Linked DNA regions of Homo sapiens: region 1 is linked to region 2. Evidence: fine-mapped expression QTL. Tissue or cell type: subcutaneous fat. Region 2 holds a variant in brackets; the other region holds the start of a gene. All regions are shown on one strand. Distances are between the middles of the regions.

Evidence for each region. PIP is the estimated chance that this variant, and not a neighbour inherited with it, causes the effect.
Region 1: ACTR8 starts here. The variant in region 2 is fine-mapped to the expression of ACTR8 in subcutaneous fat (TwinsUK, PIP 0.95). The same link has a PIP of 0.9 or more in neural progenitor cells and skeletal muscle.

What each region holds. Positions count from the first base shown.
Region 1 is chr3:53,878,977-53,886,976 of GRCh38, forward strand. It overlaps ACTR8 (actin related protein 8), which reads right to left and starts at 3,176. Exons shown (of 13, transcript NM_022899.5): 1 at 3,003-3,176; 2 at 963-1,133. The coding sequence starts at 3,125. SELENOK (selenoprotein K) reads right to left here. Exons shown (of 5, transcript NM_021237.5): 3 at 7,875-7,958; 4 at 6,850-6,936; 5 at 5,441-6,585. The coding sequence ends at 6,582. RefSeq lists silencers at 2,803-2,912, 3,303-3,392 and an enhancer at 3,063-3,142.
Region 2 is chr3:53,901,715-53,910,249 of GRCh38, forward strand. No RefSeq gene overlaps it. Among named protein-coding and RNA genes, the nearest start is that of SELENOK, 14 kb to the left of the region's middle. The variant C/CA (reference allele first, on the strand shown) is at 3,958.

The DNA of each region.
Region 1 (8,000 bases), 23 kb before region 2:
ATATTTCAGAGACTCTTCCATACAATTATATAATTCTTATGTTTACAGTTTTGACAATGACACATTCCTTCATATGTTGATCAGCAAGGCTTAAACTTTTTGGTTAAGCCATAAACTTACTGGTTCTCGTTATTATAGTATAAAGAAAATGCCCATAAATATCTTTACAGAAATGTTTTCTTTTGATTTTTATTTCTTAAACGTACTCCCTAAAGTAGAATTATAAGATCCAAAGATAAATAATGAAGTGCGGACTCTTATATCAGCAAGTTATATTTAAACTTACAACTAGACTTACGTAGAGTCTGCTTGTTACACTAAAAAATGGAACCCTAAGGCCTACTATCAGAATTAAAGAAACTTTACATTCCCAAAACTATCCTTGACTTAAAACTTCAAAGTAAAATGTGGATTATGATGTAATATATAGATTTATCATTGATCACAAAGAATTTTCCTGATAATTACCATCTGCAACATAGGATAAAGTAGATGCTTACTGCAAGAAAATTTTTTTTTTGCCTTGAAATTATGGTTAATCTAAGACCATAATAAGTGCTTATTGTAACAATCTAATTTGCTAATGGATTGAAAATAAGAGTTTGACTTATTGACTTAAACTGTAAGTATCTGAAAGAGATATTTACAGTTTAAATATGGCTTAATCCATAAGTTTAAGCCTGTTAACAAGGACCTGAATGTATTACTGTGAGTGATGATTTTGTGTCTTCCATTATAGATCACCTTCATCCACACTCAATTCACCCTGAAAGACTTACTTTTGTTGTAACTAATTCTTTACATCTAAAGTCACTAGCTCTGATGAAAAATTAGTGACATTATTAATGTTTTAAAACACAGCAAAGCTATGAAGATGTTTCTTTAAGATTCTGGTGTACTTGTGTCTAAGCCCTCCCAGGGAAACAACCTTAGGCTTTCTCTCCAGGTCGTTTTTGACTTACATTTAGTCCCTCCCTTAGGAGCCAACTGTCCTTGTATAGGGGCTGCCCTTGTTGTTTGTGTCTTCGGGCAATGACGTGAGGAATGCTGGCAGGAAGAGTGTCTGTGGCTCGACCAATCCTTAAAGTTGTTGAACCTGGATGTATGACAATGATGAAGTTGCTCTGGATTTGCTGCAGATATAAAACATAGATGTGTGACTTTGTAAATAATATGCAGGTAACAAAGTTAAACAACATACACATAACAAGCTAAACTAAGAAGCTGACTCAAAGGTATCAAAATAATTCAATAAAGTTCTTTGAGAAGTATCCAATTACCGCTCTCTACCTAAACACAAACTCATTGTTTATTATGTTCCCTTGACCTGAGTTATAGTACATAGCTCAACAAATATTTGTTTAAATAAATGAAACAAAAATTGTCCACTACAAATTAACATACAGTTATTGAGCATTTATGTGACTGAAGAAATGTTGCTATAGAATCCGGGCCCAGGCTCTGAATTCACGGATCTGTCTGCAAATTCAGACTGCCACTTCCTTGCTCTGAATGAAGCTCCTAACTCACAGTTACTGTGAGAATTAAATGAGTTATACATGTAACTCAGAGCTGGGCCACAGGAAGCATTCGAGGAATGTTGGCTCTTACTATAGTAAAGCCTTTCAACGTGATCCACTGCCTTCACAAGAGGTCAGACTCTGTGGCTTACACGACCCTCATGATATGGCCCCTGCTAAGATCTTCAGTCCCCTTCCTTAACTCCAGACATCCTAATCTACTGGCTGGGCCTCCAACACTTCACATCCTCTGTTGGCACAAGTGTCTTCCACACTGTTCTTCTTCCCTGAGATTCCCTCCTCCCTCTGGTTAGCTCCTAATCACCTTCAGGACTCTAAACAGATGTCACCTCACCTCCTTTGAAGAAACCCTCCCTGACTGTCGGGGATGGAGGAGGTACTTGCTTGAGTGCCCAATACTGCCCTCTGCACAAGCCCATTCCATGCCATGCTCTGATACCTGTTGTCCTATCTCCAAGTGTGACCTCTCTCCTCCTAATCACCCCCCACAGAGTGGGAGAATCCTAGAGGGAAGGATCTGGCAAGGCCCTTACAGACCATCCAGTCAGCCTTCTCAACTAGACAGATGGAGAAACCAGGCCTGTGCAACAGTAATGGCCACTCTGGGCTTACGGTGTGCCAGGCACTGTCATACTAGTGATAACTAACTAGTAGCTGCCCTACTAGTTAGGTATTATCCTTAACCCATCTACCGGTAAGGAAGCTGGATCAGAGATGTCCTACATGAATTTCTGAGCAGTTTATGCCTCATTTCTTCTGTGAATTGTACACTGCCTGTGCCCGTTTTCCTACGTGAATGCTGTTTTAGTTACTGATCAGTAAGGTTTTGTGTATGTGTATACATCTAAGGTCCTCTGCCAGGCACGCTACTGCAAATAATTTTTTCTGGTTAGTTTAGTTTGGTCTAATAGTGTTGTTTTTGATACACAAGCTCTTAATATATATTTAGACAAATGTCCACCATTTCCTTGCTTTTAAGCTTGAAATGACTTCCATTATCTGAGATTTCCTTAACAAAGGAAAAAGCCTGGACCCCAAACTATCCCTTAACAAGCACAGGCTGACGCTCCCAGTGAGCCAGCCTGGTCCTAAACTCTATCTGCCACCATTTAACCCTCACGGCAACTTGCGAGGCGGCTGGTTATCACCGTGGTCGTTTTATGGTCGGGGAAGCTGAGGCCAGAGCCCGGGCAGGAGCGCACACAACCAGACGGTGGGGCGTGCGGGAGATCGGAGCGGTGTCCCTGCGGGGGCTCCGCCTGGCTCCTGGCGCTCCGCACCTCCCAGCCCTCGGCGTCCCGGCGCGCCACCACCCGGAAAAGAACGACCGCTTCCGCACTCCCCCCACCAGGGGCTGGGGCCTGCAAGGGGGACTCGAAGCCTCCCGCCGCCTCCCGCCCCTTGCCTGGCAGCGGAGGACCCAAGCAAGGGCAAAGAGTTCCAACCCAGCCAGAGCCGCACCTCTTGCAGCGACTCCGGCACCAGCGCGGGCACGATGGGCCGCTTCACGCCGCGCTGCTCCTTCTCCTTCTCGCCGCCCTTCTCCTTTCCGTTCTCCGTATCACCCTTCTCAGCCTGGGTCATTATGGCCGGAGACACCCACCAACCTCTCGCCTCAGCGCTGCAGCCACGACTGCCGGGATGGAAGGGCCACCGCGCAGGCGCACGGCCGGCTGCCCACAGTCAAGATGGCCGCCGCGGAGTCGCCCCAGAGGGCTCCGAAAAGGCGGGGGTGGGGCTGCCCGGCGCAGGGGCTGGGGGCGGGGTGTGCATGCGGATTGATTGGGTGGGTGTTGCTGTGATTAGTCCTGACTGTGTAGATGCCAGCAACATAGTACACATAGCTTTTCGAGCGCCTAGTGGGGGTCGGCTGATAACCCGCATCTTATTTCGTCCTCACAGGCATCTCTTCTCCTGGCTTCCCAGATACCATATGTACTCTTAGTTTTTCTCATATGTCTTCATGTTCAGTCCAGCCTCTGATGTTGGGGTTAGGTCTTTTCCAGGCACACTCCTTGGGTGACTATCCAGTTTCCTGGCTTTAGCAATGAATACGATTCCCAAATATATATATCCAGGATGAACCGCTCAGAGAGATCCGTACTGATAACCAGTGCCTACTTGGTCTCTCCATCTGGATTGTCTACAAGGCACTGCAAACTTAAATATGTCCAAAATTTAACTCTTGATTCCCTCCCCTCTCACTTTCACCATCTCAGTAAATGTCATTTTGATTCTTCACTTGTTGACAGCTTCTACATCCAATCCATCAGTAAATCCTGCAGTCTCTAAAATAGATCTTGAATTCATCCACTTCTCCATTCCCATGCCACTACCTAGCCCAAGCCACTATCATCTCACCTGGATGACTACAACAGCCTCTTAACTCGAACTCCTTGTCCTGTCCCCCTATGATCTGTTCTTATATAGTTGCCCACGTTGTTTTAAAATATTACGTAGTTAATACTACTATGTACCCAGCACTCCACTAAGACTTACCTCAAAAATTAGATGTCACTCATGCTTTAAACTCTAATGGTTTCCCTTTGCTCAAAGAACAGAATCTAAACTAACCACCACCTAAAGACCATATCTAGTTATTGCTACATTTCTAAGTTCACCTCACAACACTCTCCCCATTCCTTGGCATTTCCAGCTACACCTGTTTTATCTTTCTCAGACATGCCAAGCCCTTCCCGTCATCGGGCTGTTGCACTTGCTGTTCATTTTGCCTTGGATGCTCTTCCCTCAGCTGTCTCATTCTCACGTCTGAACTCAAATGTCACCTCAGGCCTTCCGCAGTTATTCTCTCATCATCCTATTCCCTTTGAAGCATGAAGCATTAGTCTGTAATTATCATGCCTGCTCACTGTCTCCCACACTAGAATGTAAGCTCCGTGAGACTTTGCCAGTTATCTTCAGCACATGGTAGGTGCCCAATAAGCATGTGATGACTAAATACTAAATAAAGAACTCTTGGAGGTAAAAATTTAATCCCCGTTTTACAGGTGAGTGAAGTGGGATAAAATGGCATAATTCACTCAAGATCATAAGCTATTGAGTAGCAAAGACAAGAGTTAAGCATAAAGTACTCAAGAACCTGTGTTTTACATTCTATCTGAAGTGCAAAGAAGAATACCTGAATGTCAAATGCAGCCAGAACTCTGGGATAAGACCCGAGGAACAAGTCCTGCAGCAGCAGTGCTAGGAGGCAGAAGAGGACCATGGTTCACATGCTCAGGAAGAGCCATCAGTAACAACAATCAACCACCTACTGAGACTCTGCCATGGTCTCCCCGCTATAGGGTAAGGTGGAGGTTTAATAATGCCTCTGCCATTCACTGGCAATACAATCTAGGAAGCTGCCAAACTTTACTGAACCCTTGCATGTATCTGTATAATGCAAATGTCATTATACATTTACCTCACTTTGTATATATGTATACATTATACATATCCCTCACTTTGTCAGAATTTAAAATGTGTAAAAATTTACAGGCTGGGCATTGTGGCTCACACGTGTAATCCCAGCGTTTAGGGAGGCCATAGTGGGAGATCACTTTAGCCCAAAAGGTCAAGGCTGCAGTGAGCAGCCACTGTACTCCAGCCTGGATAAGAGTGAGACCCTGTCTCAAAAATAAAAATAAAAAATAAAAATAAAATAAAAATTAAAAAATAAATAAAATCTGACACATAATTGAGGTGGCCAGCAAACTGTTATCCTTATCCTGAAACCTGCATTGTAATTGCTTCTTTATCCTGAATATTGGTATCTTATGCCACAACATCCCATTTCCCGACAAACGGGGTTGAATAAATGCTGATAAATCAATATAAAAAGGCTTTCACCTGAACACTTGGTTTCAAAGCCTGTTAAACACCAGAAGAGGAATTATCTGTTTTCGTTTTTCCAATAAATATTTATTTCCAATAAATACTACATGACTATCTTACATGTAGTCACTATTCAAAGGACTGGGGTAAAGACAACAAAATTCCTAGTCTCAGAGCTTCCACTCTAGTGAAAGAATGTGAAAGTTATCAGTATTCAGATGGAGTTTAAAGCCAATAGGCAGTATTTTGAGTGATGCTATAGAGTGCAAATTTGTCAAGATAGCATGGAAGCCCATGGTTTTATTTATTTTTTTGAGACAGGGTCTCACTCTGTTGCCTAGGCAGGAGTGCAGTGGCATGCTCACAGCAACCTCCGCCTCCCGGGTTGAAGCGATTCTCCTGCCTCCGCCTCCTGAGTAGCAGGGATTACAGGTGCACTCTACCACGCCTGGCTAATTTTTGTTATTTTAGGTTTCGTCATGCTGCAGGCTGGTCTCAAACTCGTGAACTTAGGCGATCTGCCCGCCTCAGCCTCCCACAGTGCTGGGATTACAGGCATGAGCCACCGCGCCAGGCTGAAGTCCATGATTTTAAAAACTATTTAGTAAATTTTCATTTTGTAGCTCAGTTTTGTTAGCTATGGTTTTATAAATACCCTGATAATTACATTTGGTAGCAAATTAGACACAGTGTATTAAAGATTGATGAGACAAATATGTTAAAGATAAAAATTAATTCAAGAGCACAGATATGCTATGCATACTACTAAAATAAATACAGTGATTTATAAATGAGAAAAAGTTAACAATGAACAGTGTTTCAGAAGTTGAAAAGGTGACACTAACAGTGCTAAATACACAGGCTTTTATTTGTTTTCTTCAGATTGCTTTTTCGTGAATATAAAGATGAGGAGTCCATTCTGCAACCTAAAAATATTTACTTATTAAAACTATATTAATACTTTAATAAACTATACAAAAAGGTAATGAGACAAACATCTGCATTTATGGAACTGCATGTCAGTCAGGCCAGTTCCCTGCAGAGGGAATTCCCAGCATGACCTCATTCATCTGTGAGGACACAGAGCAGTCCTTGTTTAGACATACACATTCATCTACTGCTCATCATGGTCAGCCTTCCACTTCTTGATGGTTTCCTTCTGCTATGAATGCGCATGTCCGGTTGTCTGCTTCTTAGAGCAGACATTTACCTGAAAGAAAATGTTACAATAATTAGTTACTGGTTATTAATTTGGATCTGTGTGAAAACCTCAACATATTACATGTTATAAAATCTTTCTCAAAAGACATTTTGATAACAAGGCCAGTGAATTTTTCAAGGGTTAAGATAACAAATATATTTCCAAATAATGTCTGAGTAATTATAAGCTGCTGGGCAACTTCTTAAAGAAAACATTACTACAGAAGTGTTTTCAAAACAAAATCCTACAAAAGAATTTCAGATCTGAAGTTACCTTCCTCATCCACCAGCCATTGGAGGGGGACTAGGGCCACGCAGATGATTGATTCTACCCATTCTTCGGGGAGGGTTTCCTGGTGGCCTAATAAAATAAAAAGTTAGTATCTACTGTTTGATAGACACAACTTGAATTGTCTCCTTTTAAAAGCACTCAACTAGACCCTTTTCTTTTTCAGCACCCACATGACCCTAAAACACAATTTAAAATAGAAACTACCATTTTAGGTCAGGAGGCAAAAATTAAAACACTTAAAGGGACCAGACACATAATGCACACAAGGAACTGAGTCAAGAAAGGACTGTGATGAACTGAATAGCACCTCCAGTAATGCCCCACTGAAACCCAGCTCCAGCTGATTTTTGCCAGGTAGAAACATAAGCCTAGCCCAGTGCTACTTGATCTTGATCTTTACGGCTTTTTTTTTGAGATGGAGTCCCACTCTGTCTCCAGGCTGGAGTGCAGTGGCACGATCTCAGCTCACTGCAACCTCTACCTCCTGGGTTCAAACAATTCTCCTGCCTCAGCCTCCTGAGTAGCTGGGACTACAGGCGCATACCACCACACCCAGCTAATTTTTGTATTTTAGTAGAGACGGGGTTTCATCATGTTGGTCAGGATGGTCTCGATCTCTTGACCTCGTGATCCACCCGCCTCAGCCTCCCAAAGTGCTGGGATTACAGGCTCAAGCCACCGTGCCTGGCGATCTTCTAAGTTTTTAATTAGCAACTAGAAATCCAGATGTTAAAATGAAATCTTTAGATTTTAATGGTGGCCATCAGTTTTCACCCTCTAATTTAGACTTTTTCCATGGGATATTTCATGTATATTTTAGCTTTGTCAGATTAACTGATTATTATCAAATCAGAAGCAATTTGACTTTTAATTTACAGTAATGCATTAATTTTGTAAAATAGGATTTAAACTTTTAATTTCCAAAAGTCTAACTCTATCTACCTAAAATATCTAATAAAGGTATACAAAGACATAAAAACAACTATTATCAATTTAAAAAGCTGTACCCTCTTCCATCATCATATCTGGAATCAGATGAGTTTCCATAGCTTCTTCTTTTTTTCACATCTTGCTGAAGCAGAGTTTTGAAACTGAAACAAGGGGCAGAAAACAACAAAGGTATCACTTTTGAC
Region 2 (8,535 bases):
CTTCCCTACTTCAGAACACTGACTCCATTCCTTTGGAGTTGGTGTTTTCAGGTGGGCCATCCTCACGCTTTGCACTCTCCGTAAATTAGATTCTGACCATTTTGATTCTTTTAGGTTGACAAAAGCTAGAATATTATAATGAACCCCTTTGTACATACCAACCAGTTTAGACAATTATCAACTCATAGCTAGTCTTGTTTCATCCCACCCACTTCCCCCATTTACTCAGATTATTTTTAAGCAAATCCTAGATGTCATATAGTTTCATCTGTAAATATTTCAGCATGCATCTCTAAAACACAAGGACTCCTTAAAATATATAATTGCTATGCTACTTTCCCACCAACAAAAATTAACAATAATTTCTTAATGTCATTAAATATTCAATGTTCCAAAACCCCCTGCTAATTATCACAATTTTTTTCCATTTTCATTTGTCTAATAAGTATCAAAATACATTGCAGTGGTTGAAATGTCTTGATAAATCCCTTGTCATGTGTGAATGACCATGTTACTGGAAAGGGGACCTGATCCAGACCTGAAGAGAGTGTTCTTGGATCTCGTGCAAGAAAGAATTTGGAACAAGTCCACAGTGCAACATGAAAGCAAGTTTGTTAAGAAAATAAAGTGGTGAAAGAATAGCTACTCCATAGACAGAGTAGGGCATTTCTGAAAGAGGAGAAAAGCACCCACCTTGTTTATATATAGGATATATATATAAATGCTTGTTTATATATAGGATATATATATAAATGCTTGTTTATATATAGGATATATATATAAATGCTTGTTTATATATAGGATATATATATAAATGCTTGTTTATATATAGGATATATATATAAATGCTTGTTTATATATAGGATACATATATAAATGCTTGTTTATATATAGGATATATATATAAATGCTTGTTTATATATAGGATAACAACAACAACAACAAAATCATGGGGAGATGCACTCTACTACAAGGGTTTGTGATAAAGGATTAATTTTCTTAATTACTATATTTTTCAAGAATCGATATTATTAAAGCAAAATTAGGAATGCTTCTGTGCTAGAGATAACGGGATGTTAGGACCATTCCTGAGTCTGGGTCTGTTTAGTAAACGTTATCAATCTGTTTCCTTAACCGTAAACATCTAGAGGCTAGGAATACCTAACTTCCGGGGAATGCAGCCCAACAAGTCTTAGCCTCATTTTTTCTAGCCCTCACTCAAGATGAAGTCACTCTGGTTCAAATGAATGCTTCTGACAACCATGTATTTTAATAAAAATAAAAATTTCTAATAAAGAAGAGAAAACTAACAAACTTCTGTCCATAGGAGGAAACCCAGTGTTCTGATGATTTGGTGACTAGTGTGATATGTTTTCCAGGAACTAGGTAAGTACCAAATATCATGTAGATACTGACTCCATTACCCTATTATCTGAGTACTCTGAGTACTCTTCTTTTTTTTTTTTTTTTTTTTTTTTTTGAGACGGAGTCTCGCTCTGTTGCCCAGGCTGGAGTGCAGTGGCACAATCTCAGCTCACCGCATGCTCCACCTCTCAGGTTCATGCCATTTTCCTGCCTCAGCCTCCTGAGTAGCTGGGACTACAGGTGCCTGCCACCACACCCAGCTAATTTTTTGTATTTTTTTTTTTTTTTAGTAGAGACAGGGTTTCACCATGTTAGCCAGGATGGTCTCGATCTCCTGACCTCGTGATCCGCCCGCCTTGGCCTCCCAAAGTGCTGGGGTTACAGGCATGAGCCACTGCACCCAGCCTATCTGAGTACTCTTTAAGGAGTAATATTTTTCAAGTAAAAAAATCATAAAAATGATACATTAGGAAGACATCAGCAAAAATGATGGAGTAAGAATCTCCAAAAATTATCTTCTGTATAAAAACAATGAGCAAATTTGCAAAAATGGTCTCAATCAATTTTTTTAGAACTGTGAAATTAACCAAAGGCTTGCAGCAATCAGGAGTGTTCTCGGACCAAACTGAAGGTCAGGCTGCTATTTCTTGTGGCCCAATAACGAGATGCAGATGAACTGGGGGAGGAAGAGAGTTTTTATTTCTGCAACTGGTTATAGGGAGAAGGCCTGGAAATTATCACCAGACCAACCCAAAATTACAAAGTTTTCCAGAGCTTATATACCTCCTAAGCTATATGTCTATGTGTAAGTGTGCATTCATCTAAAGACTTAAGTGATTAACTTTTTTAACATATAACTAAGGTCTAAGTCCTGAATACCTTCCTCTGGAGCCTCAGTAAATTTACTTAATCTAAATGGGTCCAGGTACTGGAGTGATTACCCTTATCTTGTCTCCTGCTAAATCATGGAAGTTTGGGGATTCCTTCAGACCCCCAATAAACTTGTTTGTGGAGGCCTGGGCAGTTTCTTCAGACCCCCAATAAAACTTGTTCTTAAATGGGTCCTGTTAAGAATTCCTTTGTTATTTTGTTATGCTTTAAGGCCCAGGAAAGGTCTAGGCAAAACTCTTGATGGGCTTTTGTTACATCCCAGCCTTTGTATAAGGGCACTAGCTTTTAATATTTAACTTAACCACTCAGTACTGAAACAGTTGTTATGGAGGCCTGCATTAGTGAGACCTGGCCTACCACAAGGAGAGCATTAATTCTAAAAAGATGGCTGAATCGGGTAAAAATAGCAATCATGGTGCCATTTTCATTTGCCCTATTCCCATTCCCCCTTCTTCATTTCTGCAGAAGCTTTGAAAACCATCAGCCCTTAGTCATACAAACCAGCAGCCTGGCAGTCAATAAAAGAGCAGAAGGGGGTTGGTGAACTATTAAAGCCCCCTTCACAGAGAATTGTCATTATTTTACCTGTCTGAAGAGTCCCTGGAAGTTTCTATTTGCATGGCTTTTTTAAAATCTGAATCAGGAACTCAAGTGTAGAAAAATACTTATCACAGGGGCATTTGTTGAAAACAATTAAAAGCAATTGATTGACTTTGTGACTGCCTCAGGCAGTCAGTAACAGTTGGGGTAGACAATAGGCTAAACAGAAAGCTTAAAAGGAAAACTGGGCAATGAGATATCCACAGGGCCTTTGAAAAGCCCTGACATATTCTTAGGAATCTACAAGGCCACCTGCATGAATAGGGCTGTGTACATGCTGAAGAAAAACTTGATATTACTTCTAGATGGTGAGATTAAAAAAATAATAAGCAAACTGAGTAGGTCCCAAGCTCTCACATCTGGCCAGTTTTGAGATGGAACAAGCAGGAAGTGAAGGATAAGGCAGAATTGCCAATTACCCAATTGAATGTTGAAGGCATGCCCCAACACACACCCAGATCCCTTCTGCAAAAAGTGGCAGACTTATTGGTTCCAGAGCTTTAAATCTCTGTCTAGTCATTAGCTGACTACTAAGCTAACTGAGCAGAGACATCAGTAGCTATATATGACAAAGAATACAGCCTTTACAGCATTGGTTTTAAAAAGTCACTAAACAACTTGGAGAAGGAAGAAGAATCTCATTTTCAGAATTGCCACATTATATTATTTAAAATGTCAATTTTTCAATAAAAAGTTATGAGATATGCAAAGAAGAATACATGGACCATAGAGAGGAAAATAAAAATAACTCCAATAGAAACTGTTCCCAAGGAAGCCTGGATGTTGGACTTAGTAGATAAAGATTTTAAGACTGGGCATGGTGGCTCATGCCTGTAATCCCAGAAATGTGGAAGGCCAAGGCAGGAGGATAACTTGGGCCCTGGAGTTCCAGTTTGAGACCAGCCTAAGCAATATAGTGAGATCCCATCTCTACAAAAAAAAATTTGTTTTAATTAGCTGGATGTGGTGGTATGTGCCTGTGGTCCCAGTTATTCAAGAGGCTAAGGTGGGAGGATCACTTGAGCCTGGGAGGTCAAGGCTGCAGTGAGCTGTGATTGTACCACTGCACTCCAGCCTGGATAACAGATTGAGACTCTGCCT[C/CA]AAAAAAAAAAAAAAAAAAGAAAAAAAAGATTTATGGGCAAAGAAGCAAAGCAAAGCAAAGAAGCAAAGCAAGCAATGTCTAAAGAATGAAAAAGGCCAGACATGGTGGCTCATGTCTGTAATCCCAGCACTTTGGGAGGCTGAGGCAGGTGGATCACGAGGTCAGGAGATTGAGACCATCTGGGCCAATATGGTGAAACCCTGTCTCTACTAAAAATACAAAAATTAGCTGGGTGTGGTGGTGCACACCTGTAATCCCAGCTACTTGGGAGGCTGAGGCAGGAGAATCACTTTAATTTGGGAGGTGGAGATTGCAGTGAGCTGAGATCACACCACCGTACTCCAGCCTGACGACAGAATGAGATGCTGTTTAAGAAAAAGAAAAAAAAGAAAAAAAAAAGAAAGAAAGTATGACTGATTGACTGATGTTTTGACAAATAGAAATATCAATAAAGAGATCAAATTTTGTTTAAGAAGAGAGAACCAAATAGAAATTCTAGAGTTGAAAATATAGAAACTGAAATAAAAATCCACTAGAGTGGCTCAACAGCAAACTTGAGCAGGCAGATGAAACAATCAGTGAACTTGATAGATTGAGATTATCCAATCTAAGGAACATAAAGAAAAAAGAATGAAGAAAAGTGAACAGTTTTTAGAGACCTGTAGGACACCATCAGTCATACAAACATATGCATAATGGGAGTCTCAAAAGAGAGGTGGGAAAGAGGGATAAAGAATATTTGAAGAAATAATGGCCAAAAACAGTTCAAGTTTGATGAAAAATATTTGTCTATGCACCCAAGACCTAAAATAACTCCAAATAAAATAAAACCAAAGAAATCCATACCTAGATACATGATAATCAAACTGTGTTGAATCTTTAAAGCAGCAAAAGAGAAGTGACTCATCACACACAAGGAATTCTAAATAAGATTAACACGTGATTTCTCACCAGAAATCACGGAGGCCAGAAGGCAGTGGGATGATATATTCAAAGTGCTGAGAGAAAAAGATTGTGAATCAAGAATTCCATATCTAGAAAAACTATCCTTCAAAAATGAATGAGAAAATAAGACATTCCTGTATAAACATATCCTGAGAGAATTCATTGCTTTAAAATCTGCCCTACAAAAAAATACTAAAGGGATTAATGCAGACTGAAATGAGAGGACAGTAAGCAATAACTCAAATCCACATGAAAAATAAAAAGCACTGGTGTGTTAGTTTCTGAGGGCTGCTGTAACAAATTACTACAAACTGGGTGGCTTAAAACAACAGAGATTTATTCTCTCACAGTTCTAGAGGCTAGAAATTCAAAATCTGGCAGGGACACATTTTTTCCAGGGCTCAAGGGAAGAACCCATTCCTTGCCTCTTCCAGTTTCTTATGGCTTGCCCAGAATTCCTGGGCTTATAGTTACATCAATCCAATCTCTGCCTTGTCTTCACATCACCCTTTCCTCTGCGTCTGTCTTCTCCTGTGTGTGTGTATTATAAGGACACTTGTTAGATTTAGGGCCCACCTGGATGATCTCATCTCAAAATCCTTAACTGTCTTACATCTTCAAAGATCTTTTGTTTTTTCTTTTTCAAATAAGGTAACATTTTCATAGGTTTTGGGGTTTGAGACATGGACATATTTGTAGGCGGCCACCATTTGCCCCTCTACAATCAGTAAAGGTAACTACATAGGTAAATAAAAAACACAGTGTAAGTATATTTTTGTAACTTTTTCCTCTTAACTAATTTAAAAGATAAGTGCATTAAACAATAATTATAAAATCTGTAATGATAGGCAAACAATGTAAAAAAAGGTGTAATTTATATGACAGTAACAGCACAAGGGGGGAGAAGAAACGGAACCATACAGGAGCAAAGTTTTTGTATATTTTTGAATTAAGTTAGCATTAATTTAAACTAGAGTTTTAAAAGTTAAGGTGTTAATTGTAATCCCCAGGGCTACTACTAAGAAAATAAGTTTTAAAATATGATAAAATAAGCAACAGGGGAATTAAAAGAAGTCAGTAATGGAGGAGTAGAAATCAAAAAGGCATAAGACATATAGAAAACAAATAGCAGAATGGTAGAAATAAGCTCTGCCTTATCAGTAATTACATTAAATGTAAATAAACACTTCAATTAAGAGGCAGAGATTGGCAGAAGACATTTTTAAAAATGATTTCTGTGTTTCTTACAAAAGACACATTTAGATTTAAGTACACAAATAAGTTGGCAGTAAAAGGATGGAAAAAGATATACCATGCAAACAGTAACCAAAAGAAAACTGGAACCACTATACCAATATCAGATACAATAAACCTTAAGACAAAAATTATCAGTAGAAAACAAGGATATTTGATAAGTATTATAAATCAATACACCAAAAAGGTATAAAAATTATAAACATATATGTACCCCAAAATAGACTTTAAAAGTGTATTAAGCAAATACTGATAAAAGTGAGGAAAGAAATAGACATTTCAACAACAATAATAGTTGGATAATTCAACATCCCACTTTCAATACTGGCAAGAAGACATACACAGAGATAAACAAGAGAATGAAAGACTTGAACAGCACTAAACCAACTAGACCTAACGAACCTCTCTAGAATACACCATGCCAAAACAGCAGAGCACATATCTTTTCAAGCACACATGGAACATTCTCCAGTATAGACATATGTTAGGCCATAAAGCAAGTATTAATACCTTTTAAAAGATTGGAATCATTCGAAGTATTTTTTGTAACTACAATGGAATGAAATTAGAAATCAATAACAGAAATGTAGGGAATTCACAAATTTGTCAAAATTAAACAACATATTTCCAAGTACCAATGAGTCAAAGAAGAAATCACAGAGAAAATGAGAAAATAATTCAAGATCAATGAAAACAAAACATGACAAATTAAAACATATGGCATGCAGTGAAAGCAATGCTTAGAGGGAGATTTACAGCTTCAAATGCCTTAAAAAGAAGGGAAGAAGCCAGGGGGAGTGGTACATTCCTGTAGTCCCAGCTACTTGAGAGGCTGAAGCAAGAGAATCATTTGAGCCCAGGAGTGAGAGGCCATAGTGCACTATTTTCATGCCTGTGAATAGCCACTGCACTCTAGCCTGGGCAACACAGTGAGACCCCACTTCTTAAAAAGAAGAAAAATGTCAAATCAATAACCTAATCTTCCACCTTGAGACACTAAAAGCAGCAGAGCAAACTAAATCCAAAGCAAGGAGAAAAAAGGAAGTAGCAAAGATAAGCATGGAAATAAACGAAACAGAGGACAAAAAAATAAAAATAAAGCTAAAACTAGGTTTTTTGAAAAGATTAATGCAATTCTTAAACTTTTAGTTAAATTTACCGAGAAAATATGGATTACAAGAAAAAACTATGAACAACTTTACGCCAACAAATTAGATAACCTAGATGAAATAAACCAATCCTTACAAAGATACAAACTACCAAAACTGACTCAAGACGAAGAAAATTGGAATAAATCTATAAAAAGGAAAGAGATTGAATTAGCAGTTGAAAATCTTCTTACAATTAAAAGCTCAGAATTAGATGGCTTCACTGATCTATTCTGCCAAACATTTAAAGAATTGATACCAATTCTTTACAAACTCTTTCAGAAAAGAGAATAGGAGAAAAAACATAGCTCATTCTATGAGACCAGTATAATCCAGATTCAAAAATCTTATTTTAACAAAATTACTAGCAAATGGAATCTAGAACATATAAAAAGGATCACACACCATAACCAGTTCAGATTTTATCCCAGGAATACAAGTTTGATTTAACATCTAAAGTTAATAAATGTAGTATAAAGGATAAAACCACATGATCATCTGAATAATTGCAGAAAATGCTTTTGACAAAATCTAACACCTTTCATAATTAAAATAGAGCAGTCAACAAGTGAAGGGTAGATGTGAACTTCCTCAACTTGATAAAGGGCATCTACAAAACACCCACAGCTAACATCATACTTAATGGGTAGAAAACTGAATGCTTTCCCCTTAAGATTAGAAGCAGGCAAAGATGTTCATTCCCACCACTTCTATTGAACATTGTACTGGAAGATCTATTCAGGGTAATTAGGCAAGATAAATAAATAAAAGGCATCCAGAACTGAAAGGAAGAAGTAAAACTACCTCTATTTGCAGATGACATCTTATATGTAGAAAATCCTAAGATCCTTCTCCCAGCACCACAAACACACACTATTAGAGATAGTAAATGAGTTTAGAAAGGTTGCAGAATGCAAGATAAATATACAAAATTCACTGTACTTTTTATACCCTAGCATTTAACCACCCAAAATTGAAATTAAAACAATTTCATGGCCGGGCATGGTGGCTCATGCCTGTAATCACAGCACTTTGAGAGGCTGAGGCAGGTGGATCACCTGAGGTCGGGAGTTCGAGACCAGCCTGACCAACACGGAGAAACCCCATCTCTACTAAAAATACAAAATTAGCTGGGCGTGGTGGCACATGCCTGTAGTCCCAGCTACTCGGGAGGCTGAGGCAGGAGAATTGCCTGAACCTGGGAGGCAGAAGTTGCAGTGAGCTGAGATC